Linked DNA regions of Homo sapiens. The protein of the gene in region 5 interacts with the protein of the main gene of each other region in a biochemical or structural test. Each region holds a gene or a part of one and is shown on either strand. Other genes may lie near its edges. The genes, in order: FSD1, ACACB, CAMTA1, AFTPH and PEX14.

Region 1 (6,402 bases), on a different chromosome or scaffold from region 5:
GGGGGGTGGCGCCTGTAATCCCAGCTACTCAGGAGGCTGCGGAAGGAGAATCACTTGAACCCGGGAGGCAGAGGTTGCAGTGAGCCAAGATCGCACCACTGCACTCTAGCCTGGGTGACAGAGCGAAACTCTGACCCCCTCCAAAAAAATTAGCTGGGTGTGGTGGTGCACACCTGTAGTCCCAGTTACTCAGGAGGCTGAGGGAGGAGGAGCATGTGAGCCCAAGAGGTTGAAGCTGCAGTGAGCTATGATTGCATCACTGCACTCCAGCCTGTGCTACATAGCAAGAACCTGTCTTTCAAAAAAAAAAGGCCAAGTGCGGTGGCTCACGCCTGTAATCCCAGCACATCTGGGAGGTGGAGGCAGGAGGAACCCATAAGGTCAGGAGTTTGAGACCAGCCTGGCCAGCATGGTGAAACTCTGTCTCTACTAAAAAATACAAAAAACTGGCTAGGCGCGGTGGCTCACACCTATAATCCCAGCACTTTGGGAGGCTGAGGCAGGCAGATCACCTGAGGTCAGGAGTTCGAGACCAGCCTGGCCAAGAGACCAGCCTCGCCAATAAGGTGAAACCCCGTCTCTACTAAAAACACAAAAATTAGCCAGGTGTGGTGGCGGGGGCCTGTAATCCCAGCTACTGGGGAGGCTGGGGCAGGAGAATTGCTTGAACCCAGGAGGCAGAAGTTGCAGTGAGCCAAAGATCGCATCATTGCACTCCAGCCTGGGTGACAGAGCGAGACTGCAACTCAAAAAAAAAAAAAAAAAAAAAGGCCAGGCACGGTGGCTCACGCCTGTAATCCCAGCACTTTGGGAGGCCGACGGAGGCGGATCACAAGGTCAGGAGATCAAGACCATCCTGGCTAACACGGTGAAAACCCGTCTCTACTAAAAATACAAAAAATTAGCCAGGCGTGGTGGCAGGCGCCTGTAGTCCCAGCTACTTGGGAGGCTGAGGCAGGAGAATGGCGTGAACCCGGGAGGCGGAGCTTGCAGTGAGCCGAGATAGCACCACTGCACTCCAGCCTGGGCAACAGAGTGAGACTCTGTCTCAAAAAAAAAAAAAAAAAAAAAAAAATTAACCAGGCGTTGGGGCGCATGCCTATAGTGCCTGTAGTCCAAGCTACTTGGGAGGTTGAGGCAGGAGAATCGCTTGAACCTGGGAGGCAGAGGTTGCAGAGAGCCGAGATCAAGCCACTGTACTCCAGCTTGGGCGACAGAGCGAGATTCTGTCTCAAAAAAAAGAAAAAAGAAAAAAGGGAAAGAAAGAAGAAAATAACCCAAACCCTCCCATCTTTCCAAGCAATCAACAAAACAGTAGGTGGATTGCAAACGACCACATAGGCAGCTGCTTTCATCGGTATCCTTACTCCTGCACAGCTTTCCATGAATCCAACTTTCTGCCCTGAGGAATTCACTCACTAGGAAGTCTGTCAAAGGCAGGAAGCCATGGTTATAAAGCGTAGCACCTGGAAGCCTCGTAGTGACAGAAGAGATCTATACTTTGACCGTGGTGTTGGTGGTGACATGAATTTACACATGGGAGAAAACTGTGTGGAACACCCGAATGAGCGCGTGTAAAACTGGTAAAATGTGGCGGGGCGTGGTGGCTCACGCCTGTCATCCCAGCACTGGGAGGCCGAGGCAGGCGGATCACCTGAGGTCAGGAGTTAGAGACCAGCCTGGTCAACATGGAGAAACCCCATCTCTACTAAAAATACAAAAATTAGCCAGGCATGGTGGTGGGCGCCTGTAATCCCAGTTACTAGGGAGGCTGAGACAGGAGAATTGCTTGAACCCAGGAGGCGGAGGTTGCGGTGAGCCGAGATCAGGCCACTGCACTCCAGCCTGGGCGACAAAGCGAGACTCCATCTCAAAAAAAAAAAAAAAAGGTAGAATGTGAGTCCACTGCACCCGTGTCCATTTCCCGGGTTTTATGCTGACTACATGGGTCCTCACTGTACTTTTTGTTTTAGTTGTTTTGGCAACTTCCTGTGGATCTATAATTATTTCAAAATACAAAGTTACAAGAAAACAAAACCAAAAGGCGGGGGCACTTGGAGGAGGGATTTGAGGAATCCTATTTACAACAAATAAAAGGGGTGTGTTTATTTTGATTCTCAAGCAAAGGATAAGCCAATGGCTGTTTGCAGCTCCTGAGGCTGATGACTTTTCCCCCTGCAGTTAGCGTGCTCATGATTAACCATGTATGCTAATTACAGATAACTAGCTGGCTGATTACAGCCCAAAAGCAGCTAGTGAATGGTGATAGTTAAACCCGTCAGCCAGCCTCTCCCCGCCCCTCCGGGATTCCCCTGGATCAGGATGGCTTTTTTTTTCTTTTTTTTTTTTGAGACGGAGTCTCCCTCTGTTGCCCAAGCTGGAGTGCAGTGGCGCGATCTCTGCTCACTGCAGCCTCCGCCTCCCAGGCTGAAGTGATTCTCACTCCTCAGCCTCCCAAGTAGCTGGGACTACAGGCATCCGCCACCATGCCCCACTAATTTTTTTGCATTTTTAGTAGAGACAGGGTTTTACCATGCTGGCCAGGCTGGTCTTGAACTCCTGACCTCAAGTGATCCACCCACCTCAGCCTCCCAAAGTGCTGGGATTACAGCGTGAGCCACCACGCCTGGCCAGGATGGCTTTTTGTTTTTTTTTTTTTTGAGACGGAGTCTCGCTCTGTAACCAGGCTGGAGCTCAGTGGCGCAATCTCAGCTCACTGCAACTTCTGCTTCCTGGGTTCAAGCAATTCTCCTGCCTCAGCCTCCCGAGTAGCTGGGATTACAGGCGCCCGCCACCACACCCAGCTAATTTTTGTATTTTTAGTAGAGACAGGGTTTCACCATGTTGGTCAGGCTGGTCTCAATCTCGTGACTTCAAGATCCGCCCGCCTAAGCCTCCCAAAGTGCTGGGAGTACAGGTGTGAGCCACCACGCCCGGCCCAGGAGGCTTTCCCCCTTCAGACCCTACCTCCACCAGCTGGGTGGATTCCTTGGGTTTTGTTTTTTTTTTTCTTTATTTTTCTCTCTTTGTTTAGTAGAGACAGGGTCTCGCTCTGTTGCTCAGGCTGGAGTGCGGTGGTGCAGTCATGGCTCACTGCAGCCTCCAATTCTTGGGCTCAAACAATCCTCCCACCTTAGCCTCCCTTGGTAGCGGGGACCACCATGCTCAGGTAACTTTAAATTTTTTTTTTTTTTATAGATGGGCTCTTGCTTTGTTACCCAAGCTGGTCTCCAGCTCCTGGCCTCAAGCAATCCTCTTGCCTCAGCCTCCCAAAGTGCTGTATCACAGGCTTGAGCCACCATGCCTGGCCAGCTTTCAATTTCTTGTAACTGCCAAGGAGGACCCCAAATACTTGGAGGGTGAATCCAGAACGCCAGCTCTAGGAGGGAAAAGATTATTGTCTGCTTTGTTCCCTGCTCCGAGGACAGTACACAGCTATTTGGGAGGCTGAGGCAGGACTGCTTGAGGCCAGGGGTTGGAGACCAGCCTAGGGAAATGGCAGGATCCCATGTCTGGAAAAATATATTCATTATTATTATTTATTTATTTATTTATTTATTTATTTATTTTTTGAGACGGAGTCTTGCTCTGTCGCCCAGGCTGGAGTGCAGTGGCGCAATCTAGGCTCACTGCAAGCTCCGCCTCCCGAGTTCACGCCATTCTCCTGCCTCAGCCTCCTGAGCAGCTGGGACTACAGGTGCACACCGCCACGCCCGGCTAATTTTTTGTATTTTTTTAGTAGATACAGTATTTCACCGTGTTAGCCAGGATGGTCTCGATCTCCTGACCTTGTGATCGGCCCGCCTCGGCCTCCCAAAGTGCTGGGATTACAGGCGTGAGCTACCGCGCCCGGCCTATATTCATTATTATTATTTTTTGTTTTTTTGAGATGAGTTTCGCTTTTGTTGCCCAGGCTGGAGTGCAATAGCGCGATCTCGGCTCAGTGCCATCTCCACCTTCCGGGTTCAAGCAATTCTCCCGCCTTAGCCTCCTGAGTAGCTGGGATTACAGGTGCCCGATACCATGCCCGGCTAATTTTTTTGTATTTTTAGTAGAGATAGGGTTTCACCATGTTGGCCACGCTGGTCTTGAACTCCTGACCTCAGGCGATCCACCCGCTTCAGCCTCCCAAAGTGCTGGGATTACAGGCATGAGCCACCGCGCCTGGCCACTGTCTCATATTTCTGATCCACCTCCCCAGGCTGCTTCCAGACCCCATGAGCTTTGGGGATCGTCCCCAAGGCCCCCAGTGACTGATGGCGAGACGGGAGGCTGGAAGAGGTGGCTGTTCACAGCTGGGCGGAGCTGGCACACACTGCCCTTACCTGTCAGGGTGTACTCTGTCTGCCGGATGCCCTCGATGACCATCCAGGGCTGGTCCTCCTTGAGGCGGGGCGGGCCCTCGAAGTTGGTCCGCCGGTACTCCAGCACGTAGTGGTCAATCTTGCTGTCCTCATCCGGCATGCGCCACACCAGGGTCACACAGTTATCTGCCACCAGGGACTCAGCCAGGTCGATCACGGGTGCGCTGGGCACTGACCAAGACGGAAAGGAGAGGGGGTCGGGATTCTGTGCCTGGTTCAGGGGGCAGGGGGCTTGCTGCAGGGCTGCCCAACCACATGTTGGACAATTTTGGGGGCATGGCCACAAAGGGGTTCCATGTTTGGCAGGGTGGAGACTTTTTTTTTTTTAGAGACAGAGTCTTGCTCTTGTCACCCAGGCTGGAGTGCAGTGGCACGATCTTGGCTCACTGCAACCTCCGACTCCCTGGTTCAAGCGATTCTCCTGCCTCAGCCTCCTGAGTAGCTGGGATTACAGTCGTGAGCCACCATGGCCCGGCTAATTTTTTATATTTTTAGTAGAGACAGGGTTTCTCCATGTTGGCCAGGCTGGTCTTGAACTCCTGACCTCAAGTGATCCACCCGCCTCGGCCTCCCAAAGTGCTGGGATTCCAGGCGTGAGTCACCGCGCCCGGCCATGGAGACGCTAAGGTTCCATCAGTGGGTTGGGGGAGGGCTGAGCTTTCTTGGGATTCCATCATTTACAGGCAGAATTATTCCAAAATCTCTGCCAATGAGGGATGCGGCTTTCTTTGGGGCTGCATCATAGACAGGCTGGGTTCTCAGTCCATTTCTCCTCGGGGACGTGGCCTTCTCAGGGCTCCACCCCTGGAAACAGGGTTTTCCCAGGAGCTACCATGTGGTGGGCAGGCCCTTCTCGTGGCTCTATCCAGGGAGGAGGTCTCGGGAGGACTCCACTCCCCCAACGACATGGTATTCTCAGGGCTCCACCCCTGTGGACAGAGTTTTCCCAGGACCTCACCCCCTGGTGGGTGGGGCTTTCTGATGGCTCCACCCATGGGCGGGACTTGATGAATACCCCACCCCCACAGGACGTGCTATTCTCAGGGCTCCACCCCTGGGGACAGGATTTTCCCACCTGGTGAGTTTGACCTTCTCATGGCTCCACCCCAGGGCGGGGCCTCATGAGGACTCAACCAACCCCACAGGACATGGTATTCTCACAGTTCCACCCCTGGGTACAGAGTTTTCCCAGGATGTCACTACACAGTGGGTGGGGTCTTCCCATGGCTCCACCCAGGGGCGGGGCTCCATGAGAACTCCACCCCCCACAGGGCGTGGAATTCTCAGAGCTCCACCTCCCCCAGGCGGAATTCAGACACCGGGTCGTCCACCATACTCCAGGTCCTGTTTCAGGGCCTCCTAGCCTCCCAGGTCATTCCCCGGAAGTCCTGGCCCTCTAGTGCGTGCCCCTCTCACCAGGCAGGAACTTGAGTGCCTGTAGCATCTGCCGCTCTTGCGCGAAGTCCACCATGAGGTGACTCATGTTGTCACTGACCTTCGCTTTCAATGATAGCCGGAAGGCAGGGGCCATGGTCACTCTGCAGGAAGGAGGTGGCAGGCGTTGCGTGGGGGACCAGGCCTGGTCATCCGTGGCGCGAGGGGGCCCCTCCCCAGGGCTCCCGTCCAGGGCTCTGAGATGAGACACCCTCACCAGGTGGCCCCTGTCTTCACACCAGGGGCAGGGTAGTGGGGTGGGGGCCAGACCCCAGTGTCTTACCCATCTTTGATTTGCTTGGCAGCCTAGAGAGAGGAACAGAACAACATTCAAAGATTTCTTTTTTTGTTTTTGAGACGGAGTCTTGCTCTGTTGCCCAGGCTGGATTGCAGTGGAGAGATCTCGGCTCACTGCAACCTCCACCTCCTGGGTTCAAGCAATTCTGCCTCAGCCTCCTGAGTAGCTGGGATTACAAGCACCCACCACCACACCCGGCCAATTTTTTGTATTTTTAGAGAGATGGGGTTTTGCCATGTTGGCCACACTGGTCTCAAACTCCTGACCTCAGGTGATCCGCCTGCCTCAGCCTCCCAGAGTGCTGGG
Region 2 (6,402 bases), on a different chromosome or scaffold from region 5:
GCACCCACTACCACGCCCGGCTAATTTTTTTTGTATTTTTAGTAGAGACAGGGTTTCACTGTGTTAGCCAGGATGGTCTCGATCTCCTGACCTCAAGTGATCCGCCCGCCTCGGCCTCCCAGAGTGCTGGGATTACAGGCATGAGCCACCGCGCCTGGCCAAAGATATCATTTTATAAATTGCATGTTTCTGCTAATAGTGACATGGAGTTCTTTACAAGATTTCTTTTTATGACTTCTCCAAGTTTTAAGTGGAAAGACCCAGCCAATCCTAATTCATGTGATTTAGAGATGAAAATATCTCTAATCTGTAACTTTCTTTCAGAAGCTCTTAAGAGTTTTATTTGCTCCTGCTCAGGTGTTGTGTAAACTCGCTCATACTTTCAACACCTTTAGGTCTGAGACAGAAATTTGAGTATTACATTACATGAGATACCCAGTCTTCATGGGGAAATAAACATTTTAATCTTTTGAAATGGAGGTTTCCTTGAAGTCTTATCCCAGTAGAAACTTTGACCTTGTTCTTTTTTTTTTTTTTTTTTTGAGACAGAGTCTCGTCCTGTCACCCAGGCTGGAGTGCGATGGCACAATCTCAGCTCACTGCAACCCCTGCCTCCCAGGTTCAAGCAATTCCTCAGTCTCAGTCTCCCGAGTAGCTGGGATTGCAGGCAAGCACTACCACGCCCAGCTAATTTTTGTATTTTTAGTAGAGATGGGGTTTTGCCATGTTGGCCAGGCTGGTCTCGAACTCCTGACCTCAAGTGATCTGCTCACCTTGGCCTCCCAAAGTGCTGGGATTACGGGCATGAGCCACTGCACCCGGCCTGGAATACCTTGTTCTCATGCTTCCTCTGAATTTGTGATTCAGTGACTTGTTACTTCAAAGTAGAGTTCACCTGTACCCAGGGAAACCAGGAAACAGAGTTAGAAATATTGCATTTGATCGGAAAAATGTATGCACATTTCACATCCTATCCTAATAGATCTCTCTGTTTGCAGTGATAATAGTAAATTTATGACCGTAGAGTAAGGTGATTTTCTAGGAAGATAGACCGTGTTCATTTATTCCAGGAATCCAGGGATCCTTGTATCAGAGAATCCAGGCTGGGCACAGCAGAGAAACCAAGGTATTGATTATTGGGTAGTTGGCATACCCCAGGTATGCCATAATAATTATGGGATCTCACATAATTTTGAGGACAATCCTAGGAAGGAGATTTTATTTATTCCATTCCACAGGCCAGGAAACCAAGGTTCAGAGAATTTCCATGATGGGCTCAGGCCAATCAGATAACAAATGGCAAAGCCTCCACCCAAGTCTGCTGTACTCCAGAAGTCCTGCTCTCTGGGCTCATACCTTAGCCACTCTGACCCTTGCTGGGGCCCCAGAAAACAACTACACATAGAAAAGGTCTCTTCAGGCCAGACACAGTGGCTCACGCCTGTAATCCCAGCACTTTGGGAGGCTGAGGAGCTAGATCACTTGAGGTCAGGAGTTTGAGACCAACCTGGCCAACATGGTGAAACCCTTTCTCTACTAAAAATACAAAAATTAGCTGGGTGTGGTGGCTAGTGCCTGTAAACCCAGCGACTTGGGAGGCTGAGGTAGGAGAATCACTTGAACACAGGAGGTGGAGCTTGCCGTGAACCGAGATGGTGCCACCGCACTCCAGCCTGGGCAACAGAGCAAGACTCTGTCTCAAAAAAAAAAAAAAAATGATTTTGAGACAGGGCTGGGTGGCTCACGCCTATAATCCCAGCACTTTGGGAGGCTGAGGCAGGCAGATCACTTGAGGTCAGGAGTTCAAGGCCAGCCTGACCAACATGGCAAAACCCTGTCTCTACTAAAAATACAAAAATTAGCCAGTTATGGTGGTGCGCCTGTAATCCCAGCTACCTGGGAGGCTGAGGCAGGAGAATCGCTTGAAACTGGGAACCAGACGTTGCAGCAAGCTGAGATCGCGCCACTGCACTCTAGCCTGGGCGACAGAGCGAGACTCCATCTCAGAAGAAAAAAAAAAAGGATTAAAGGATTTTCCACCACTCCTGTTGAACTAATTAAGCTCCATATTTTTAAATTAAATAATGAGTGAAGGTGATATCAGAGGACAACTTGAACACACTCTCCTTTCTATTTAGAAGCAAATCAGCTGCAGACTTCAATACTAGCTATTATAGAATAATCAGTTGTTGGACATGCCCCTCCCAACTGACCTAGAAGGCTTTCTCTGCTGTGTTATAAGGAAGGCTTCGGTCTTTTATTTCCATACTCCCCACAAAGTGAGGCTTTTGGAGCTCTTCTGATATGGAGAGCTGCCCATGCAAGGTGGAAACAGGCCTCCAGGGCCAATCAGTTTGGGAAACACCAGGCTGCCTGTGGTTTACAGCAGGACTTCTCAGAGCCTTTACTATGCTAAATGCAGTGGGACTCTCCAAGATGTGACATTGGGATTTGGCCCTAGAAATGTTATTTTTTGGCAAGGGTGGGGACCATCTTTCAGGATTGGTATTCATAGCCACCTCTTGCAAAACATGGAACCGTTTCATTCCATGCCTTCCTCATCTCCTTGCAGGATCCTGGGAGGCAGGACCATGGAGTGGATGAGGTTCACAGGCTCGAGCTCTTGAGCAGGGGGCAAGGGGTGTGTGTGTGCATGTGTGTATGCATGCATGTGTGTGTGTATGTGTGTGTGTGTAAATAGAGCACTGTCTCCCAGGGTTCTGGATGAATTTGAACAGGGAGAAAGTAGAATTGATTCAGTGAGATCTGCTAACAGGCTGTTGCACTAGCTCAGCCTTGGAGTGAGGCAATGGTGGGCGTAGGGGAAGGGATGAAGAAAACACACCCACACACGTGTGCCACACACGTGCACACCTGGAGCTGGAGGGCCCAGCCCGGGGCCCAGCTCTGCCACTCACTGATGTGACTCTGAACAACAGACTTTCTCTCTGTGCCTCATCTTATCATTTTTGTGAACATTTAAAGAGATAACACACACAAAGTGCACAGCATAAGACTCAGTGTGTAGGAGGTGCTCAACAAACATCAGCTTTCTTTTTTATTTTTTTGAGACATAGTCTTGCTCTGTTGCCCAGGCTGGGGTGCAGTGGCGTGATCTCAGCTAACTGCAACCTCCACCTCCCAGGTTCAAGCGATTCTCCTGCCTCAGCCTCCCAAGTAGCTGGGACCACAGGTGCATATCACCACACTCGGCTAATTTTTGTATTTTTAGTAGAAACAGGGTTTCACCATGTTGGCCAGGCTGGTCTCGAACTCCTGACCTCAAGTGATCTGCCCGCCTAGGCCTCCCAAAGTGCTGGGATTACAGGCATGAGAGACCACACCTGCCAGCTTTCATTCTTATTCAACATGCTTTTATGGGTTCCTTGAGGGACTACTATATGCCTCCTAGTGTATACTGGAGTTACAAAAGAACCCTATTTTCAGAGTTGCAAATAGACTGGGGAAGGGGTCGGGGGAGATGAAGTCAGAAATTGATGATAAATCTGTGCCCCTCTGGGTTTTAAGCCTTGCCTGCTCTCACAGATCTTACCTTCTAGTGGGGGACACTGGTAGATGTGTAATAATGACCCACATAACTACAACCTATGATGAGTGCCAGGAGGAAGAGATCAGGGAACTGTGGGGCATAGAGCAAGAGCATGGTGTTCCATGGCATCTCTCTGGTGGCCCCTGATACAGCAGTATGAGGGAGCAGCCAGCAGGGGTTCAACAGCCGTGCAGATGCCTGTGCCCAGGGCCTCACCTGGACACTCCCAGCCCCAAGGACTCAGTGGAGCAGGAGGATTCCCCAGGTAGGCAGCAGGGGTGGGGGTGGCACAGACACACCTGAGCTGGGTGCAGGCCTCCAGCAAGTGTTCACTGACCCTGACGCTTCTGTGTGCTAGGCACTGTGCTGGAGAGCCCAGAGCAAGACAGAGCCACTCCTTGCCCTTAGGAAGCTTCTATTCCAGTGGAGAAGAGGCATAAACTCATTGGTGAATGCAGAGAGTCAGGTCAGCACGTGATGAATGGCACGTGTCCTACAGAATAAGACCACTGAGTATCAGGGTGGGTTTGAGGTGGGGACACTGAAGCCAACCATCAGAAAAAGAGCAAGAGATAACCATGCAAAGGACAGAAGTGGGGGCAGGGAAGGGAAGAACATTCCAGAACATTCCAGGCAGCATGTGCAGAGGAACGTAGAGGGGTCAGTGTGGCAGAGGCCGGTTTGCCAGGGCCATGTAGACCATGGAAAGGGGTGCAGTGAGCAATCATTGAAAAGGTGAAATTCAGTTTATCTGCTTACTACCCGGGTGAGTGACTTTGCGTCACTTCAACTTCTCGAACCCAGAACTTCCTCATCAATAAAACGAGGCTTCCCCTGCTACTGGTCTCACAAGGTGGAATGAGACAATGATTATAAAATGCTTCATATAGGCCAGGTATGGTGGTTCATGCCTGTAATCCCAGTGCTTTGGGAGGCCAAGGCGGGAGGATTGCTTGAGTCCCTGTCTGTATAAAATATAAAAAGTTTCGCTGGGCGTGGTGGCACATGCCTGTAATCCCAGTGCTTTGGGAGGCCGAGGAGGGGGATTGCTTGAGCCCAGGAATTCAAGGCTGCAATGAGCTATGATTGTGCCACTGCACTCCAGCCTAGGCGCCAGAGTCAGACATTGTCTCAAAAAAAAAAAAAAAAAAAAAAAAAGATGCTGAATACAGAGCCTAGCACAAATTAGTACTCATAAGTATTAGCTATTAATATTCAGGTTTCAGTCAGCTGGTGGGTACTTGCATTGTATTTTATGAACTTTTTAACTTTTTGGTATAGGAAAAAAAGTTGACCTGTTTTTTTTTAACACCTTCAGAAGCAGAGTAAATAGCACAGTGGTCCCCCAATGCATTCATCAGCCAGCTTCAATAACCATTGCCTTTCTGCCCTTCTAGTTTCATCTTCCTATACCCATTTTCCCTATATTATTCCCCCAACATTTTATTATAAAAAAATTTAAGCTGGGTGCAGTGGCTCATGCCTGTAATCCCAGCACTTTGGGGGCCAAAGTGGGCGGATCACGAGGTCAGGAGATCGAGACCATCCTGGCTAACATGGTGAAACCCCGTCTCTACTAAAAATACAAAAAATTAGCCGGGCGTGGTGGCAGGTGCCTGTAGTCCCAGCTACTCAGGAGGTTGAGGCAGGAGAATGGCATGAACCCAGGAGGCGGAGCTTGCAGTGAGCCGAGATCGCACCACTGCACTCCAGCCTGGGCGACAGAGCGAGACTCCATCTCAAAAAAAAAAAAAAAATTTTTAAACATACAAGTTGAAAGAATTTTACAGTGGGTGCCCATATACCCCTGATTAGATTCTGCCATTACCATTTTTCTGTATTTGTCACCTGTAAATTGCAGATATCAGTGTCTTTATCCTTGAATACTTCAACATGCATGTCATTAATTAGAGCTCCAGAGTTTTTTTTGTTTGTTTGTTTATTTGTTTGTTTTAAGAGACAGGGTCTTAGGCCGAGCGTGGTGGCTCACATCTGTAATTCCAGCACTTTGGGAGGCCGAGGCGGGCAGATCACTTGAGGCCAGGAGTTTAAGACCAGCCTGGCCAACATGGAAAAACGCCCATCTCTACAAAAAATACAAAAATTAGCCAGGCCTGGTGGCATGCACCTGTAATCCCAACTACTCAGGAGGCTGAGGCAGGAGAATCTTTTGAACCTGGGAGGCAGAGGTTGCATTGAGCCAAGATTGTGCCACTACACTCCAGCCTGGGTGACAGAGTGAGACCCTGTCTCAAAAAAAAGAAAAGAGACAGGGTCTCACTCTGTCGCCCAGGCTGGAGTGCAGTGGCACAATCTCGGCTCACTTGCAGCCTCTACTACCCTGGGCTCCCATCTCAGCCTCCAGAGTAGCTGGGACTACAGGGACACACCACCACGCCTGGCTAATTTTTTTTTTTTAATTTTTATTTTTTAGGTAACAGAGTTTGCCATGTTGCTCGGGCTGGTCTTGAACTCCTGGGCTCAAGCGATCCTCCTGCCTTGGCCTCCCAAAGTGCTGGGATTATAGATGTGAGCCACTGCATCTGGCCCCCAGACTATTTTCAAGCAATTCTCACAGCTAGATGTCACACTGTTTTGCCCGTAATACTTTAGCACACATTTCTAAAAGACACAAGTTTTTTTTTTAAACCATTGCCATAATTATATCTATCTAACAGAATGAATGATAATTCCTTAATCTAGTACCTAGTTCATGCTGACTGTCCTCCAGGTGGCTCAAAGATGTCTTTGAATGGTTTTATTCAAATCAGGACCCACAGGGTTTCTCTTAAGTCTCCTCATCTGTAATAATCAGCAACTCCCTTTATTAAATGCCAGTTACTTATTGAAAC
Region 3 (5,053 bases), 2.9 Mb from region 5:
AGGGGGCAGCACTAGGCATTCTTAAAGAAAAATCAGAAACATTAACAAAAAAACTGAAATGTATGTGACTATCCTATGGACTCTGCTGAGGGCAGCTGCATGAAAGCAAACGGGATCTCTGTCAAGCTCTGAGATGTCATGATTCTGAATTCTTACCTGGGTTGGTGCTTGCAATAACAGTGACTCCCTTGGGTATTTCTGGAGAGCTGATGGCTTCGCTGTGCCACTGGGCCATCCAGCTCTCTGTGCTGGGCTCTTCGCTTGCAGGACAGTGGATTCTGGGGTTCTGTCCCAGCTGAGCCTGCTCATCTCTCTGCAGGTGCTCCAGACACTCTGCTAATTTCACATGACCCCGTGACCTGGCAATTCCCAAAGGCAGCCTTCCTAGAGAGTCGGGAATCGAGATGGCCCGACGGTCCCACTTGTACAGCACGACGGCAGCTTCCAAGTGCCCTAGGGCACACGCCCACATCTAGAAGACAGGGAGACACAGCAAGCGTTCTCAATCAGAGGTCAAGACCAGACCTGACTTTTGCCATTGCTGCCAACTGACAAACTGGTCCTTGCTGGCAATCTCGGTGGGGCCATTGAAGATTCCCATCCCAAAGTATCTCCGAAACATGCCATGTGTCAGCAAGAGACAACGGTGGGAACCAGGCAAATCCTATGCCAGACTGGAAGAACAGCAAGGGGGGGCTACAGGAATCCATTCCTTACCAGAGGAGTACAGGAGAAGTGGTCCACATTCAAGGGGTCAACTTCCAGTTCCAGGTCAATGCTATCCGCGTGCTTTGTACTATAAGGGAGAGCACCAGAAATTACCACACTATTCACCACCGTTAAAAGGAAACACCAGAATATTATAAAACCCCACCAAGATGAAACCCAACTGGGTATATAACATCCCCATGGTGAAGAAACAGAGTCCCAGGGCAGTGTGGACGCTCCATTTGGCTAGGGGTCCAAAGAAAATGACAAGTCCAACATTTAATTCTTATCTCTCTGGGTATTTCTTGGGAAGAAGTTTATAAAACTCCCTTGGAAACTGTCCAAGGACAAAGCCCTTTGCTCGCCGGCTATAAAGTGGACTGAATGGGTAGATTTCTTCCACGGGTGGCAGTGCTCAGGAAGAATGTGAGCGAGGATGTGCGAGGCTGACCCCCAGCCAGCTGCACCACAGCCTTACCGCCATTTGATGAGGGTCTGGATTAGGGTGGCATAGCCCTGGGCAGCGGCCAGGTGGAGTAGGGTCATTCCGCGGAAAGTCTTTGAGTGGATCAAGTGCTTGGACTTCGCCCAGCAGGCTCGGCTCATCATCTTCTCGCATACCACGACCACACGGCTCTCAAAGCAGCTCCCCAAGGCCCCAGTCCCAGAAGCACACTGTCACAAAAAAGCGCACGTTACGACCTCAGGACTAAAGGCCCTCGACCCCATCAGCGCTTCGATGTAGGGGAAACAAATGCTTTACGATTAGAAACTCACAACGGAAAACATAAAACACTGAAAATAAAGAAACATTGGCTGGGCATGCTGGATCATGCCTGAAATCCTAGCACTTTGGGAGGCCGAGGTGGGAGGATTGCTCGGGAGTTTGAGACCAGCCTGGGCAACATGGTGAGACCCTGTCTCTACAAAAAGTACAAAATTTAGGCTGCGCACAGTGGCTCATGCCTGAAATCCCAGCACTTTGGGAGGCTGAGGCGGGCAGATCTCTTGTGGTCAGGAGTTCGAGACCAGCCTGGCCAACCCTAACCCTAACCCCATCTCTACTAAAAATACAAAAATTAGCCAGGCGTGGTGGTGGGTGCCTGTAATCCCAGCTACTCGGGAGGCTGAGGTGGGAAGATCACCTGAGCCTGGAGAGGTTGAGGCTACAGTGAGCTGTGATCGCGCCACTGCATTCCAGCCTGGGTGACAGAGCAAGACCTTGTCTCAAAAAACAACAACAACAACAAAAAACCCAAACCCCCAAGAACCATCCATGAAATTGAGACTAGAATGTGCTTAGCTTCAGCTCAGTAGCACTTCTCTGAAGTCCACAGCTCTACAGACACGAGTCTATCTATTAGGGCTGACACTCTGATTAGGAACTTCATGCCGATTCGTCTTGGGGAAAGTGTACACAGCCTTAAACAAAAAAAAGTGGTTCTAGCCTTCCTGTAGGCAGTAAACTGTTGTGAGACAGTGGAGCAGAGTAGCTTTCCTAATGTTTCCACTGGCGGGTATAGCGGCTCTTTCACTCTCTTTCTTCTTCTTCTTTTTTCTTTTTTTTTTTTTTTGAGACAGAGTCTCGCTCTGTCACCCAGGCTGGAGTGCAGTGGCACGATCTTGGCTCATTCCAACCTCTGCTTCCTAGGTTCAAGCAATTTCTAGCTAATTTTTGTATTTTTAGCGGAGATAGGGTTTCACCATGTTGGCCAGGCTGGTCTCGAACACCCGATCTCAAGTGATCTGCCTGCCTCAGCCTCCCAAGTGCTAGGTTCCTGGCATGAGCCACCGCGCCCAGCCTCTTGCTTCTTCTGAAGGAGAATTAGATCACTTAGATGCGGACTGTTTTTTCCTTAAAGAAATGACTAGAAGTATCCAATAATCCAGTCCTTTATGTAAAGTAAAAAGAATACTGAGAAAAGCATTTAGAGATCCTGAAATTTAAGTGTTATTAATAACAATAAGGGCTATAGGAAAGAGAAGTTTACTAATTTTAACCACATGGGTTACTTCCTATGAACCAGTTGTAATGGAAGAAAAATAAAATGAAAGTTAGTAACTTCAACAGCTTATGTGAGTCTCTGTGATAGCAGTTTTATGTTTAACACTCCCCCAAATAAATGGCACCTCTAGGCTAATTTGTATCTCTGGTGTTACTTAAAAAGTACTTTTTTTTTCTGGCAATAAACTCCATAAACTTTACTTACTACAGAAATACTATGGCTCCTCGCTGATTTTTATTTTTAAATGTGGAAAAAATGCCTCCCAAAATAAAAAAGGCAGATGATGGGATTGTTATCTCAGCCTCATCAAAGCTGTAAAAACACCTACAGGAGCAGAGTTAGGTGATCCCAACATGCCGCAAACTGACCTTGACTCAAAAGGCCAAGGCACAGCCATTCTACACACACAAGACACATTCATGAGCACATGGAAATGGCCAGAGTGAACGAAAAGGGAATTTTTTTTTTTTTGTATTAAACAAAAACAGTCATGTCTCTATCCCGCATGGCAAACACGGACATTTACTGAAGGCAACTTAAACTGATGAAAGGATATTCAGTAGTGGTTAACATGGGATGAGATTCTAGGCCAGTTGCATAGCGTTTGAGCCAGCTGCGTAGTGGCTGAGCTTTAAAATGACATTACATACCATTCCTTTTATGCCACTTTTGTTGGTGAAAGGAAAAGTATTTTAAGGAGATCTCTTATGTGAGCCATGAGGTAAATTAAACAATGATTACTTCTTTTATAAAACTTAGTACTATCGGCCGGGCACGGTGGCTTATGTCTGTAATCCCAGCACTTTGGGAGGCCGAGGCAGGCGGATCACCTGAGGTTGGGAGTTCGAGACCAGTCTGACCAAGGTGGGGAAACCCCGTCTCTACTAAAAATACAAAATTAGCCAGGCGTGGTGGCCCATGCCTGTAATCCCAGCTACTTGGGAGGCTGAGGCTGGAGAATCGCTTGAACCTCGGAGGCGGAGGCTGCAGTGAGCCAAGATTGTGTCACTGCACTGCACCTGGGCGACAGAGCAAGACTTCGTGTCAAAAAGAAAAAAAAGAAGCCTATCTTAGCCTTAATAATATTCTACTGCGTGCCAAGTTGTTTCTTTCCTGCTGATTTCTGAAGACAGGGGAGCAATATGAAAACACGGGGAGGAAGGAGGCTAGCCTTTTGGGTGTGGCATATGATGTTCTTTTAACCTATTATTTAAAATATAACTAAACTTGATATTTATGAGGTTCATAAAACCAAAAATATTCACCTAAAAACTTAACTGTGTAAAGGAAATCATCATTTGTCTTGAAGAGAAAGAGGGGGCATTATTTGAGGTTTTTTTTGCAACGACTGAGTAGTGGAGATAAGAAATACCATCAGTTCCTTTAAATTTATCTCTAGGGTCCCCTGAGAAATAATTTCTCCCTGGGAGACTTCCCAAAAATGAACTTCCTAAATGAAATGTATATAAAGCCTTCAAGACCAATGGGACTCTGAAACAATGTTTGGTAATTTACTCGTACTTGGCAATATCATACATTCTTTATGGAACTTACAGAAAGTTTGTGAAAGAGGCTGTAATGTATAATGTCATTCTACACTGAATCATTACATAAACACTTTCTCTGGGCTCTTTTCATACTGACCTTGAGTTTATAAAAGGCTTATGAATTACTGAATTCAATTATGTTTTATACCTACACTTAAGATAGGGATAAAATACAGAATAGAAAGTAGGAAGATTCTAAATTAATTCTGAACCCTAGCAGGTCTAAGTCACCATCTGGCCTTTTTTTTTCTTCTTCTTCTTTTTGAGACAGGGTCTTATTCTGTTGACCAGGTCAGAGTGCAGTGGAGTGATCATGGCTCACTGCAGCCTCAACCTCCCGGGCTCAAGTGATCCTCCCACTTCAGCCTCCTGAGTAGCTGGGACCACAGGGATGTCCCACCACGCCTGGCTAATTAAAAAAAATTTTTTTTTTCTATAGAGACAGGGTCTCAGTATGTTGCTCAGGCTGGTCGTGAACTCCTGGGCTCAAGCAATCCTCCCGTCTTGGCCTCCTACAGCGCTGGGATTATAGGCGTGAGCCACCATGCCCAGCCAGCCTCTATTTTTCAATTGGTTGTCCTTAATTCCCACTGCCCTGTAATTTAGTAGTGAATTCTGAGATTAATAGAGATAACTTAAGGATTAGGGGGGTAAACAACTGAGAAGCTCCACATTCCAAGGCTTCTTCCATACTGCACAGATTATAATGCTTAAAAGCACAGGTACCGTAAAGTACTCCCTCAGGCCTTCTGCCTGAATACAGGGACCGCATCAGCAGCAGAGAAGAGGCCT
Region 4 (6,402 bases), on a different chromosome or scaffold from region 5:
GACAAAGCTCCTTATCCTTTAATATCTGTAACAAATGATTTCACCTCACAAATCCCTCAATTCTGGAATATCTACCTCTTTTCACCTCTGACTCCACTCTGGTCCAGAATGCCATTATCATCTAAACTAATCTCCCTAAGTAGTATTTGATCATGCCCAACCCAAGTAATCTTTTTAAAAGTCAAATTTGATCATGCCAATCCTCTTCTTGTGATAAAGATTTTTTTAAAAAAATTTTTAACAAAGACTTTAAACCATTCCTCTCTCTCCAGCCTTACTCCTCCTTTCCCTTATTGTTTTCAATGCTCTAGGCTAGGCCTTCTTCCAGTTTCTGAAAGGTAGATAATTAACATTCCCTTGTGCCACAGGGTCTTTGCACTTACAGTCCCAGTGCCTAAGACATTCCCACACATCCTTCAATTTTTAGGTGAAAGATCAATTCCTCAGGTAAGTTTCCTAACACCCTCCCTCAAGTCCTCCTACACATATTTCTTTCAGAGCATAAGAACCATAGTAAGTTATAGTTTGTGATCAAACACTTGTAACTTGAAAAATTACCGTGCAACCCATGTATACTACGAAAAATATATTGAGAGGTTTAAATGTAATATGTAATTTTAAAAAATCTATGTATTCCTTTCTATAAGAGTTAAGTTAATCTTATATTTTTTCTCTAAATAAAAAGTGTCATTTCTAGAGCTGGGCTGTCCAACTGACAACAATTAAGCCATATATGCAATTAAAAATCTTCTAGTAGCCACATTTAAAAAGAAACAGATGAAATTTTATCTAACCCAAAGTATCCACAATATTATTTTAACATGTGACCAATGTAAAATATTACTGATATATTTCACATTAGTTTTTAAAATCTGCTGTGTATTTTACACTGAAATCACATCTTAATTTGGGCTAGTTTCATTTCAAGTGACACATTTGGCTAGTGGCTACTGTATTAGACAAGATAGTTCTAGAAGATAGTACTGTATTTTTTTATACTTAAATAGCTTGCTAACAGAATAGGTTAACTTAAAAAGAGCATGGCATTAAGCAAGATTAATCTTATATCAAATAAAGGCATATCTCAGGTTTAAATCATTCAAAAATTTTAAATTATGCAAACATTCCACACTGCTGAAAAGCCTAAATTCAAAATAAAAATTCCAGTAATTTAAAAACTGCATATTACTGATCATCTGAGGAAATAAGGGAGATGGGGACCCAACCACTGCTGGTAGGAGTGATTTTATTATAACCTCTTAGAAAGTAACAGGCTTTCCCTCTGACTTAATAACTCTACTTCTAAGATTTGATCCTATGAAAATAATCAACAATAAGGTCAAAGAATTATGTACAAACTTTTTCACCAAGATGCTCTTCTATGATGGTAAAATCTGGAAAACCCACATTAGTGGGAAATAGCAGAGATAACTTGAAAATGGCATTCTACACAGTCATTAAAAAGCATGGTTTTTTTCATTTTGTGGTGTTTTTTTTTTTTTTTTTTTTGAGATGAAGTCTCACTCTGTCACCCAGACTGGAGTGCAGTGGTGTGATCTAGGCTCACTGCAATCTCCACCTCCCGGGTTCAAGCAATTCTCTTGCCTCAGCCTCCCGAGTAGCTGGGATTACAAGTGCCTGACACCACGCCTGGCTAATTTTTGTATTTTTAGTAGAGACGGGGTTTTACCATGTTGGCCAGGCTGGTCTCAAACTCCTGACCTCAAGTGATACTCCCGCCTCGGCCTCCCAAAGTGCTGGGATTACAGGTGTGAGCCACCACACCCAGCCAAAAAGCATGTTTTAAGGAAAATTTAGTAACATGGAGAAATGCTCACAATTTAATAAGTAAAAGAAAGATCAACGCAATATGATTCATATGTATATGTATGACATGCTCACATATCCACAGTAAAAATAAAACAGGAAGAAAACCAAAATATTAACAGTTTTCTTTTTGTAGTATGATGACCAGTGATATTTTTCTTCTATTATCCCTCTTAACATGTATTTATTGAGTGTTACTTTGTGCCAGGCATTAAAACAGAAGGGTTCCTGCCATCATGGGCACACCCATTTTCTTTCTACTTTTTTTCCACATTTTCCCAAATTTTCTATAATAAGCACATTATTTTTTCATAATTTTAATAACTGGAAAAACATAATATGATGTAGATAATGATTTGGGTAAATCAGTTGCCAGGGGACATTTTTGGGTGAACTGGGGAAGAATCTGAATATGGCCTTGAATATTAGTTTAGATGACTAAACTGACTTAAAACAAAAAAAACTACAAAACACTACAACAAGTCTTCATTTTGGTAAAAAGTACACATATATATTAAAATGTGTAGGAAAATATGCATTATTATATAAACTGTAACAGTGAGGGATTTGCTTTTTTTTGTTGTTGTTGAGACGGAGCCTCACTCTGTTGTCCAGGCTGGGGTGCAATGGCATGATCTTGGCTCACTGCAACCTCCACCTCTCAGGTTCAAGTGATTCTCCTGTCTCAGTCTCCTCAGTAGCCAGGATTACAGGCGGCCGCCACCATGCCTGGCTAATTTTTCTATATTTTTAGAAGAGACGGGGTTTCACCATGTTGGCCAGGCTGGTCTCCAACTCCAAACCTCAAGTGATATGCCCGCCTTGGCCTCCCAAGGTGCTGGGATTACATGCGTGAGCCACTGCGCCTGGCTGAGGGATTTTTTTAAAGTAATTTTTCCAGCCTGGGCAACATAACAAGGCCCTGTCTCTACTACTAATAAAAACAATTAGCCAGGCATGGTGGTGTGCGCCCGTGGTCCCAGCTATTTAGGAGGCTGAGGCAGGAAGACTGCCTGAGCCCAGGAGGTCTGTGCTGCAGTGAGCCATGATCACTCCACTGTACTCCAGCCTGGGTGACACAGTGAGACTCTGTCTCAAAAAAAAAAAAAAGTGATTTGTTTTTTTTTGCTTGTCTATTTTCTATGATGCTCCTGTATGCCTCTGCAATAAGACTATTTTAAAAAATTTAAATATGTATACACCCACTATTTACTGAGCATCTATTACATACAAAACTGTGGTAGAACTGAGTAAAAGGAGTCACAACCTTAAAGAAACTTACAGCTAATTAAGGAGAATAATACAAGAGAACAGCAAAAATAATGCAAGATAGAATATAAACATCACTGAAGTAAAATGTGGCTACCAAGATTCTAAGAAAAAGATCACACTTGATTGGGAAGAGAAGGAATGGTGAAAAAAAAAAAACTTCAAAAAGGAGAAAATTTGAAATAGGAAGGATTTAATTGACAGAGGAAATGGTAGTCATTAAAGATAAAGCATGGGGCCCCTATCAAGGAACAGTAAGACACATAATAAAATATGGTTAGAACACAGGATATATGAAGGGTACAGGCAGTAAGCTGGAAACATAGGTTGCAAGGGCCTTGAATTTTCAGAAGGGAGTGCCTCTGTAAGCTTTCTGAGTTTAAAAATGAGGGAATTATTGCAGATTCCAATTCAAGAAACTGTCCTACCACTTCTCATCTCTACTGCTACCATCTTGGTTCATGCCACTACCATCTCTTCTTAACTCTACCAGCACAATTCTCTCCTGACTCTGCTTCTATTCTTACATTCCACTCCTATAGTCTATTTTCTATATAACAGCTAGACAGATCCTTTTACAACATAAATTATCTTACACCTTTACTCAAAAATCCTGCAATGACTTACCATCTCCCACAGTAAAAAGCCTAAGTCATTAGAATTTCTGTAAGGACCCTAAAACACTGCCCCTCTCACCCTCTAACTCTGATCACAATTTGTACTACTCTTCTACTTGTTCACCCTATTCTATCCACCCCAGACTTCTCTGCCACAATTTCTTGACTATTCCAGGCATACTTCTGTCTCTACCACTCTTCTTATTTGCTTCCCCTTCTTCAGGTTTAAGCCTTCTCTGACTCCACTCTATATAAAACAGCAAGCCCCACCAACCTCCCTTACTACTGGCTCAAAGCAAAAAATTCACCACTCCCTATCCCCCAAAACTGATTCCATTTTTCTGATGATACTTAACATCATCTGCCATTATTGCTATTGCTTATTTTATTGCTATTTGCTTATTTGTCCCAAATATGTACACAAATGTGTGAGTACATACATATATACATAAAGAAACTGAAGCTGTAGGAGGGCAGATTTTTTTTCTTGTTTGCTCATTTCAGTATCCCCAGCACCTAGAACAGGGCCGGACAAATAGCAGGTGCTCAATAGATACTTGTTTTATGAATGAAAGGAAGAAGATAACATGCATGGTGTCAGTAGATATTTAATTGAAATGGTTTATGGTATACTGTAAATATTTACATAAATAGAACCTACAGTAAATTAATTCTCATTTACTGTGTAATTTTCCGATGGGAATTATTCACAAATACAGTGCTAGTAAATTAACCTTTAATTAATTAGCAATCTATCTTTGCAAGGTTTATCTTCAAGTTAGCTATTTGGAACAAGGGTGACAGTGACTGACAACCATAGGATGGAGTCTTAAATCATTATTTCCCTCTTCTTCTCAATTATCCCAAATCAATAAGCAGTGATTCCCCACCTCCTTTCTTCCTCCCCACTTAGTTCTGACCTTTTCCCTTTTCTTGGGAATAGGTCTAATCCACAGACCTATGAGCCCCTACCCTAGAAGGGAAAGGCCAGAAATAGACACTAGGAGTGTGACAAAGGGCTGTTAAATGGTTGCCAGCAATAGGGAAGAGTCCAGGCAAGGGAAGTTAATGCAGAGGAATCTGGAGAGGCAAACAATTCTTAATTAAAAACATTTTTTTAACTTAGAAGCTCCTTGTATTTTAAAAGAAAGTCAACACAAAATAATACTAACTCCTTTCCTGTCCTTTTTTTAAATATACAATGCTGAAAGAAGAGTGATACTTTATATATGTTTTAAAGTTAAATACCTAAACTTTTAATTTCTTTTTTTTTTTTTGAGATGATGTTTTGCTCTTGTTGCCCAGGCTGGAGTGCACTGGCATGATCTCAGCTCACTGCAACCTCCGCCTCCCGGGTTCAAGCGATTCCCCTGCCTCAGTCTCCCGAATAGCTGGGATTATAGGCATGTGCCACCACACCCGGCTAATTTTGTATTTTCAGTAGAGACGGGGTTTCTCCATGTTGGTCAGGCTGGTTTTGAACTCCCGACCTCAGGTGATCTGCCCACCCCGGTCTCCCAAAGTGCTGGGATTACAGGTGTGAGCCACCATGCCCGGCCTTTAAACTTTTAATTTCATTGTGAAGAACTTCATGCAAACCTTAGGGAGAAAAAAGCCATAATGAATGAGCCAGTAACCATCACCCAGGTGTGTTAAATCTTAATCTCTTAACAAGTCAACTTCGGATTTTTTTTAAGGATATAAAGATATGTTTGTAAACCCATGGGCCCCTCCTAGATCCTTCATCCCTCTCAAGTTCTCCAAAGGTCACTTTTAGTCTGACTTGGTGTTTATCATTCCCATGCATGTTGTTATACTTTTGCTACATATTGCACAAATCACAGACAATACATAGTATAGTTTTGCATGAGACTATATAAATGGTCTAGCAAACGGATCTGTCACTTAACAGCTGTTTGACCTAAGGCAAGTTACTTAGTATCTGTGTGCCTCAGTTTCCTCTCTGAAAAATGAGGGATACTACTACTTACTGCCTTACAGGTTGTTGTGTGGATTGAGTTAGTACACTGTATATAAAGCATTTAGAAAACTATCTTGCTCATAGGAAGCAATATATATGAGCAACATATATACTGCTCATGTGTTAGCAATTATCATATAAAGCTGCAAAAGAACTTGTGACTATATCTGATATATGCACAAACTGAGAAAATGATTAGCAAAATGAGATATGTAAAATCCATACAATGCCAGATTTTCAAAATAGTGTAAAAACTAAAAATACTTATAAAGTTCCGGCTAGAAAGGTTCACTATTCTACTTAAAAAGGAATTGAAAGTGCTAAGAATAGAGGGAAAAACCTTTATTTTTTAATCTACAAAGTGTAGGTAACATTAAATTAGAATATAAACATTTTATTTAAATAATTTATGATGATTAAAAAATATCTAAATACTTAGCGGCCTCCTTTTATGAGATTTGGGGGAAGGGTTGGGAGAGAAGGGGCAATCCCTTAATGAGAAGCTATTCAAAGACTTTGCCTGCTGAGGAAAGCACTTTAGATTTCACACAAAATAAAACATTATTTGGTACTCAAATGTCACTACATTTCTGAACTAGTTTTTCACTAAATGTAAGCAGAACAAATGAAAATGTAAAATGATGTTTTATGATATGATTCACCCACACTATACAATTTTCATAACGAAAACTGGATTCGGCAAGATGT
Region 5 (6,057 bases):
TATCTGTCGTGGAGCAAGGAAAGGTTTCAGGCATCTTTCTGATGAACATATCATGTATCTCATTTCTTCTTCTAGGAGAACACAAACTATAAAGTGCTCAATGAAAGTAAATTATTAAGGTTTATTCATGATTCAGGTAGTCATCCCTCAATGCCAGGCGAGATTTCAGACCCGTTTTGCATTAAAGAGAGTGCCAAGGCTGTGGTCTGAGCTGTGGCCTGCAATGGGCACGTGTTGGAGGAGGACATGGGGACCTCTTGAAAAGGGCCCACTGGGCCCTGCGTGAGTGTGAGGGTGCCACACACATGTGCACGCACATGCATGTCAGCATGTGCCAGCTCGGGCGTGGCTCCCCCTGGCCAGGCGGTGGCCAGTCCCTAGGTGGGAAGCCCCTGTACACAGCAAAGGAGCAGGAGGAGGAAGAGCGGCCAGGCCCTCCAGGTCTACCTGGGTGCTACACCTCAGGAGCGCACCTCACCTGAGGCTGGAGCTCCCACCTGCATGCAGGTCTCACTGGCGCCTCCGTGCCTGCCCTGTCTGGAGGCTCTGACCTCTTCTTTTGGTGCCTTGGCAGAAACCAGTTTAAACAAAAGACAAATTAAGTCAACTCCTGGGGACAGAGATGTCTGGCCATTGAAGAATGGCCCCTGCTTGCCCTCCCCTTCCCTCCTGGGGTCTGGGGCAGGGACAGGGTGGTCACCTGGAGAGGGAGGGGTCTGGGGCAAGGCCGGAGACCCAGCGCCTCCATGCTCCTGGCTGGGCCGCCAGGAGGGCAGAAGCGAAACCTTCTAGAAAACTCTTCCACCTGTACCTGGGTGTGAGGGCCCCGAAAGATGAACACAGCTTGCTCAGATGCGTTTATTAAAAACAAAGAAAGAGGGAAAGAGACTCTGTGGGCACACAGGGAGCCGATGGGCAGGTGGCAGGTTCTCGCATCTCTGTCCCCTTCTATGTGGATTGGCTTTGCTACACATCCCACCTGTGGGTACAAACTCAGCAGCCCCTTCCCCTGACCCAGGCGCTCCCTGTCCCAGCCAGGGTCCTGGGATGGGACTGGCTCTGGGAGCCTTGGCTTTTGAAGGACTTGGCAGCCCCAGGCGGGCGGAGACCCTACCATCCCCCGAAGGCAACTCCCCCGCCTCCTGGCCTGTCCTGCGAGTCGCAAACACCAAGGGAGGTCCCCTGTCCTTCCCAAAGTAGATGCCCCTGCCCAAGGCAGAACCAGCGAGTTACCGGAGGAGCCGGGACAGACCCCGGGGACCGAGGGAGCTGGTCCGGGGTGAGGTCAGGGCAGCTGTCCCCCGGCCTCCAAGCATGGGGCTAGTTCTTTCCTAAAAGACACTTTATAAAAATACATTGTAATTGAGTTTAATAATCTTCTCCCTTCCAGAAAGGGCCTGACAGGCGCTGCCTGCTGCTTACTTCTGCCCCATTCCGAATATTTTTACCTTATTTGGATGAAATGCATTATTTTTCTAATGAAAGGCTTTTTTTTTTCAAAGGGCTGTTTTCCCTGGTCCAGCAGCTGGCTTTATTAGGCAGCACTCCTGCCGTTTTGGGGAGGGGTTTTTCTCTCCCTGAAATCACGCCAGACTCTGTCCTCAAAAGCCGAATTCGGTGCTCAGGACCCACAGGGGCAAAAGGCCTCCGGGCCCAGGTTTCTGTCCGTTTCTCCTCCACGCTTGAGCCTCAGGGATGTGCCAGCCCACTGACCCCCAGGATGGAGAGTGCTTGCCCTGTGAGGTCTCCATTGCCCCCACCCCAGGGATAGTGAAGCCCCAGGGAATCCCTTTCTTGGTGGCCCCAGCTCTCCAGGGAGAAATGGAGCCGGGAAGCTGGCACTTCACTTCCACAGCACCAACCCCACAGCCCTGGCTTCCCTTCCTTCCCAGGGTATCTGCCCTCTGGTCTCCCTTTCTAGTCCCACTGGAGGAGGGACCTCTGAGAAGTTACAGACAATGGCCACCAGGCAGCAAATGACAGGGGGCGGGGACTCCTCAGGAACCGATCCGTCCAGATGCAGGCCTGTGACCCAGCAGGTCTGAGGGTGGGACACAGGCAGTCACTGTCCCCAGAGCCAGGCCGAGGCCTGGCCCACCTGTCTGCCCACCGCAGCTCCCAGACACTGGGACTCCTGGGGTCCTGGTAGGCAGGACCCCCTCGTCCAGGTGAGGGTGGCAGCCCCTGGGAATTGAGACACCTGCTTCTTCAGGGACAGCAAGGAGGCCAGGGAAAAAGGAGAACAAGCCATAGTGTGACACTGAACTGGGCTCCGCTCGTCCCTGGGGAACACGTAGCTGGAAACAGGAAATGCAGGAGTGTCCTTCCAGGTGACAAGCATGAAAGACACAACCCGCAGGCCAGAAACCAGATTGGGGCTGGACCCTCCAGCAGGTGGGTTCAGCCTGCTCCCGGTGACCCTCCAGTGGGTGGGTGCAGCCCAGTACTGGGGACCCTCCAGTGGGTAGGGGCAGACCTGCTCCCAGGGACCCTCCAGTGGGTGGGGGTGGACCTGCTCCAGGGGTCCCTCCAGCAGGTGGAGGCAGCCGGGTCCCAGGGACTCTTGAGTGAGCGGGGGCGGCCCGGGCCTGGAAACCCGTCACTTTAGCAGGACCTGTGTTCCCAGCATTAAGAAGGGTTTGCTGCAGGGGCCAAAAGCGAAACATCTGAGACAAAACAGCCCCAACACCAAGTCTCTGAGCCCAACCACATGGCCTCCTCCCTCCCCAGCAGAGGGAGGGGCAGGGCGGAGCAGGTACATGGAGGTCGCACCCGCAGGGACTGCCCAGGGCTTCCTATTTCCGAAGCCCTTGTGTCCACACAGGCACATGGACATCACGGCGCCTGCGGCCCACGAGCCTGGTCCTGACACTTGGGGGCTGCAGGGAATAGGAGCGCCCCTCAAGGAGCCCATGGCTCTGCTCTTCTGGTTTTAGCCAAATGCTCTGTGAAGGGGAAAGGGAGACTGGGAGGAAAAGAGCCAGGGGAGACAGGGAGCCAGAGAGGACGCCACACTCCCCTCCCCGGGAAGCATTCGTCCATTTAAGGAAGAGCTCCTCACTCCACATGAGGTCTATATACAGTCACACGAGGTCCCTGATCCTCCTGCGGTCAGCAAAGTGTCGCCCTCCGGCAGCCACTGGACCTGAACAAGGCCTCTGCTTCTGGCTCAGCAGCGGCGGAAGCTGCCCATGGGCCCTCACCCACACTTCACCAGCTGGAGGCTGCGCTGAGACGAACCCCCGGGCCCAGGGTGCCATGAGCAGACAGGGAGCCACAGGCAGAAATTAAATAGTGGCAACTGGTATTTATTACAATTATATACAGTCCTATCTTCCGTTCTGAGGTCTATACATGATCACACAAATGAACATGTGTTTCCTGGGGGGAAGGACAGAGCTGGCTGTTGGTCAGGAAGGCCCTGCTGCCTGGCTCCTCCTCCGGAGTGAGCCCCCATCTCGCCATGGGATTAGCTGAACCATTACACGGCAAGCGGGGGCATCGGAAGCGCAGCGTGGTTTCATTTGTCTGGGAGGACGACGGGGCATGAGTGGGGTTGGGGCTGGGGACAGGCACCTGACGGGTCCAGGGCCGGGCCCAGGGAGGGAGGGGGATGGCAGACACCAGAGGGACCGCAGCTCCTCCTCCACTGAGGAGTCGGGAGGCAGTAGGGACGCTAGCTCTGGCCATGCGTGGTGTCACGGTAGTCAAGACACTCAGCAAACACACCCTGGGCAAGGCGTCTGTCCGGGAGAGGGGGCTGGGGAGGGGCTTGGGCCCCGAGGCTTCGCTGCCTTCAGCCTGACTTGAGATCAAAGCCAAAGGCAGCTGGGCCTGGGGCTGGGGCTGGGGCTGGGGCTGGCGGCCAGGCGAGAGGAGGCCAGGTGGACAGAAGTGTGACTCCCCACACTGCCACCAGGCCGCAGTGCAGCTGAGGACAGCTCTGCCCCCTACCTGGGCTCCAAGCTGCCCTCCCAGGGCCAGAGAGGGAGGCAGGGTATGGCCACGCACGGGCACACTAGATGCCATCCTCAGGGCTGGAGGCAGCAGGCGCAGCCCTAGTCCCGCTCACTCTCGTTGCTGGCGCCCTCGGGCCGCCGCAGCTTCTCCACCTGCTCGTTGATCTGCCCATCCCCGCCCCGGCGGTCCTCCCTCTGCACCCCCAGGCAGTCCTCCTCGTCCACATGGCTCACATCATCATCCTCCTCATCCTCCTCGTCCTCCTTGTCCTCCCTCTTCTCCTCCTCGCCTTGCACCTCCATCCGCACCTGGCCCTTGACGTCCACCACCCCCTCGCCTTCCTCCTGGGGGCCCAGCAAGTGGTAGGTGACCGTGGAGCCCTCGGGGCTGTGGCCCTCCTTCCCAGGCGAGGACGACGTGGACTCGTTGCTGACAGGTGAGATGTCGCTGCTGCTGTGGTGGTTCACGGCCGCAGGGCTGGAGGGTGACGGTGACTTGACTGGGATCTGCCAGGAGGGGATCTTCGGGGCTGATGGGGATGGAGGGAACTGCCTCCTAGAGGGAGAAGAAGGGGAGGAGGTTGGTGGCGGCATTCAGGACGCCCCCCTTCGAAGGGCCACGCCTTCCCTGACCCGCAAGGGCTCGGCGATGGTGAGCTGCTCCCCCAGGGACACTGGGCAAGGGACAGGATGGAGCCCTTCCACCCCTCCTTTCAGGAGCAAAGATCCTACAGCTGAGATAGATGCCAAGCGGGTCCTGTGCCCCCACAGACAGCCCAGGGTCCCCCCGGGCCCCCACCCTGGGCAAGGCCCATCTGCCTGGGCAGCTGCTGGAAGCCAAGTGGGGCCTGCCTGCCATGCGGGAGCCTGCTTCCTTCTGATCCTCAGCACCATCCCTGCCTCCAACCCAGTGGCCAGGAGAGAGACAGGTTGGTGAGGAGTCCAAAAGGGCTATGACTGGGGACTCCAGACACCTGAGCCACAGTCCTCATTTGTCTATGGCCTGAGCAAAAGGTGGAGGCAGGGAGCCCTGGCCACTGGCAGGGGGTCAGACACATCAGAACCAAAAGGGCGGTGGTTATGCCCTTTGCTAGAAAACTTCTGAGCTCAACACTTTCAACGCAGAAGAGGCAGCTCTCCCTTCTGCTCCGTACTCCGTTCCTGGGCCAGCAGCCAGCCCAAACCAAAGCCAATTCCAGGAGGGACCTGGGAGGTCAGGTCCACTTGGCAACGGCTCAGAGACAGAGCTCTCCAACAGGCAGGCCCATCTCTGCCTGAGCCAAGAGGACAAAGCCCTGCCCGCAGGGCTGTCCCCCAGCAGGGGCCTTAGACACAACTCTCCCACCACAGACCCCACTTGAGTGGGGCACACACCACGGCCTGCTTTATTCACCAGCATCCTAAACGCTAACAAGAAATTCCATGTGCAGTTTTCTTGGCCCCCACGGTCACCCGATGGCCTGGCCTCCATCCCCAGCCTCCAAGGCACTGGTCTCGGTTAGGGAAAATGGAGGCTGTCTCCTAATGACAATGCTCTGGCCTCTGCCAGCGCCACATCTCTTTCCAGGACATGTTCTTTTCCTCAGGGAAAACCGGGAAGTTGGGTGGCTTGGAAAATGGGGTCTTCTGGCTGGAGCCGCAAGACCCCTCTGCACCCCATCCTGGACCCTAGTGAAAAGCCCACCTGCACCCTCCCACTCACCCAGCTCCCAACAAATCCAGCCCAGCAGGGAAACAAGGACACCCCATGCAAGGCCCACTAGGGCATCAGCCCAGGAGGATGGCCCACAGTTGCGGCTCCCAGGACAGAGTGGCTCCTGGACACTGGACTTTCAGTTTTAAAAAACCAGAACAGTCCAGGCACAGTGGCTCACACCTGTAATCCCAGCACTTTGGGAGGCCATGGGCAGATGACCTGAGGTCGGGAATTCAAGACCAGCCTGGCCAACATAGCAAAATCCCACCTCTACTAAAAATACAAAAATTAGCCGGGAGTGGTGGCGGGCGCCTGTAATCCCAGCTACTCGGGAGGCTGAGGCAGGAGAATGGCGTGAACCCGGGAGGCAGAGGTTGCAGTGAGCCGAGATCGTGCCACTGC

What was found.
Region 1: the proteins of PEX14 (region 5) and FSD1 interact in a test that uses a peptide from one of them, tested with the Homo sapiens proteins (one large-scale study listed by BioGRID and IntAct).
Region 2: the proteins of PEX14 (region 5) and ACACB interact in a test that uses a peptide from one of them, tested with the Homo sapiens proteins (one large-scale study listed by BioGRID and IntAct).
Region 3: the proteins of PEX14 (region 5) and CAMTA1 interact in a test that uses a peptide from one of them, tested with the Homo sapiens proteins (one large-scale study listed by BioGRID and IntAct).
Region 4: the proteins of PEX14 (region 5) and AFTPH interact in a test that uses a peptide from one of them, tested with the Homo sapiens proteins (one large-scale study listed by BioGRID and IntAct).

Annotation. Positions count from the first base shown.
Region 1 is NC_000019.10:4,309,975-4,316,376, reverse strand, and holds part of FSD1 (fibronectin type III and SPRY domain-containing protein 1), read right to left. Parts: intron 6,105-6,402; coding exon 6,082-6,104; intron 5,903-6,081; coding exon 5,781-5,902; intron 4,536-5,780; coding exon 4,326-4,535; intron 1-4,325. UniProt on the Homo sapiens protein: May be involved in microtubule organization and stabilization.
Region 2 is NC_000012.12:109,117,890-109,124,291, forward strand, and holds part of ACACB (acetyl-CoA carboxylase 2), read left to right. Parts: intron 1-764; exon of another isoform or gene 765-895; intron 896-6,256; exon of another isoform or gene 6,257-6,402. UniProt on the Homo sapiens protein: Mitochondrial enzyme that catalyzes the carboxylation of acetyl-CoA to malonyl-CoA and plays a central role in fatty acid metabolism.
Region 3 is NC_000001.11:7,732,674-7,737,726, reverse strand, and holds part of CAMTA1 (calmodulin-binding transcription activator 1), read right to left. Parts: intron 1,384-5,053; coding exon 1,187-1,383; intron 797-1,186; coding exon 718-796; intron 473-717; coding exon 157-472; intron 1-156. UniProt on the Homo sapiens protein: Transcriptional activator.
Region 4 is NC_000002.12:64,526,169-64,532,570, reverse strand, and holds part of AFTPH (aftiphilin), read right to left. Parts: intron 1-6,402. UniProt on the Homo sapiens protein: Component of clathrin-coated vesicles.
Region 5 is NC_000001.11:10,627,989-10,634,045, reverse strand, and holds the end of PEX14 (peroxisomal membrane protein PEX14), read right to left. Parts: intron 4,516-6,057; coding exon 4,059-4,515; 3' UTR 3,288-4,058; downstream 1-3,287. UniProt on the Homo sapiens protein: Component of the PEX13-PEX14 docking complex, a translocon channel that specifically mediates the import of peroxisomal cargo proteins bound to PEX5 receptor.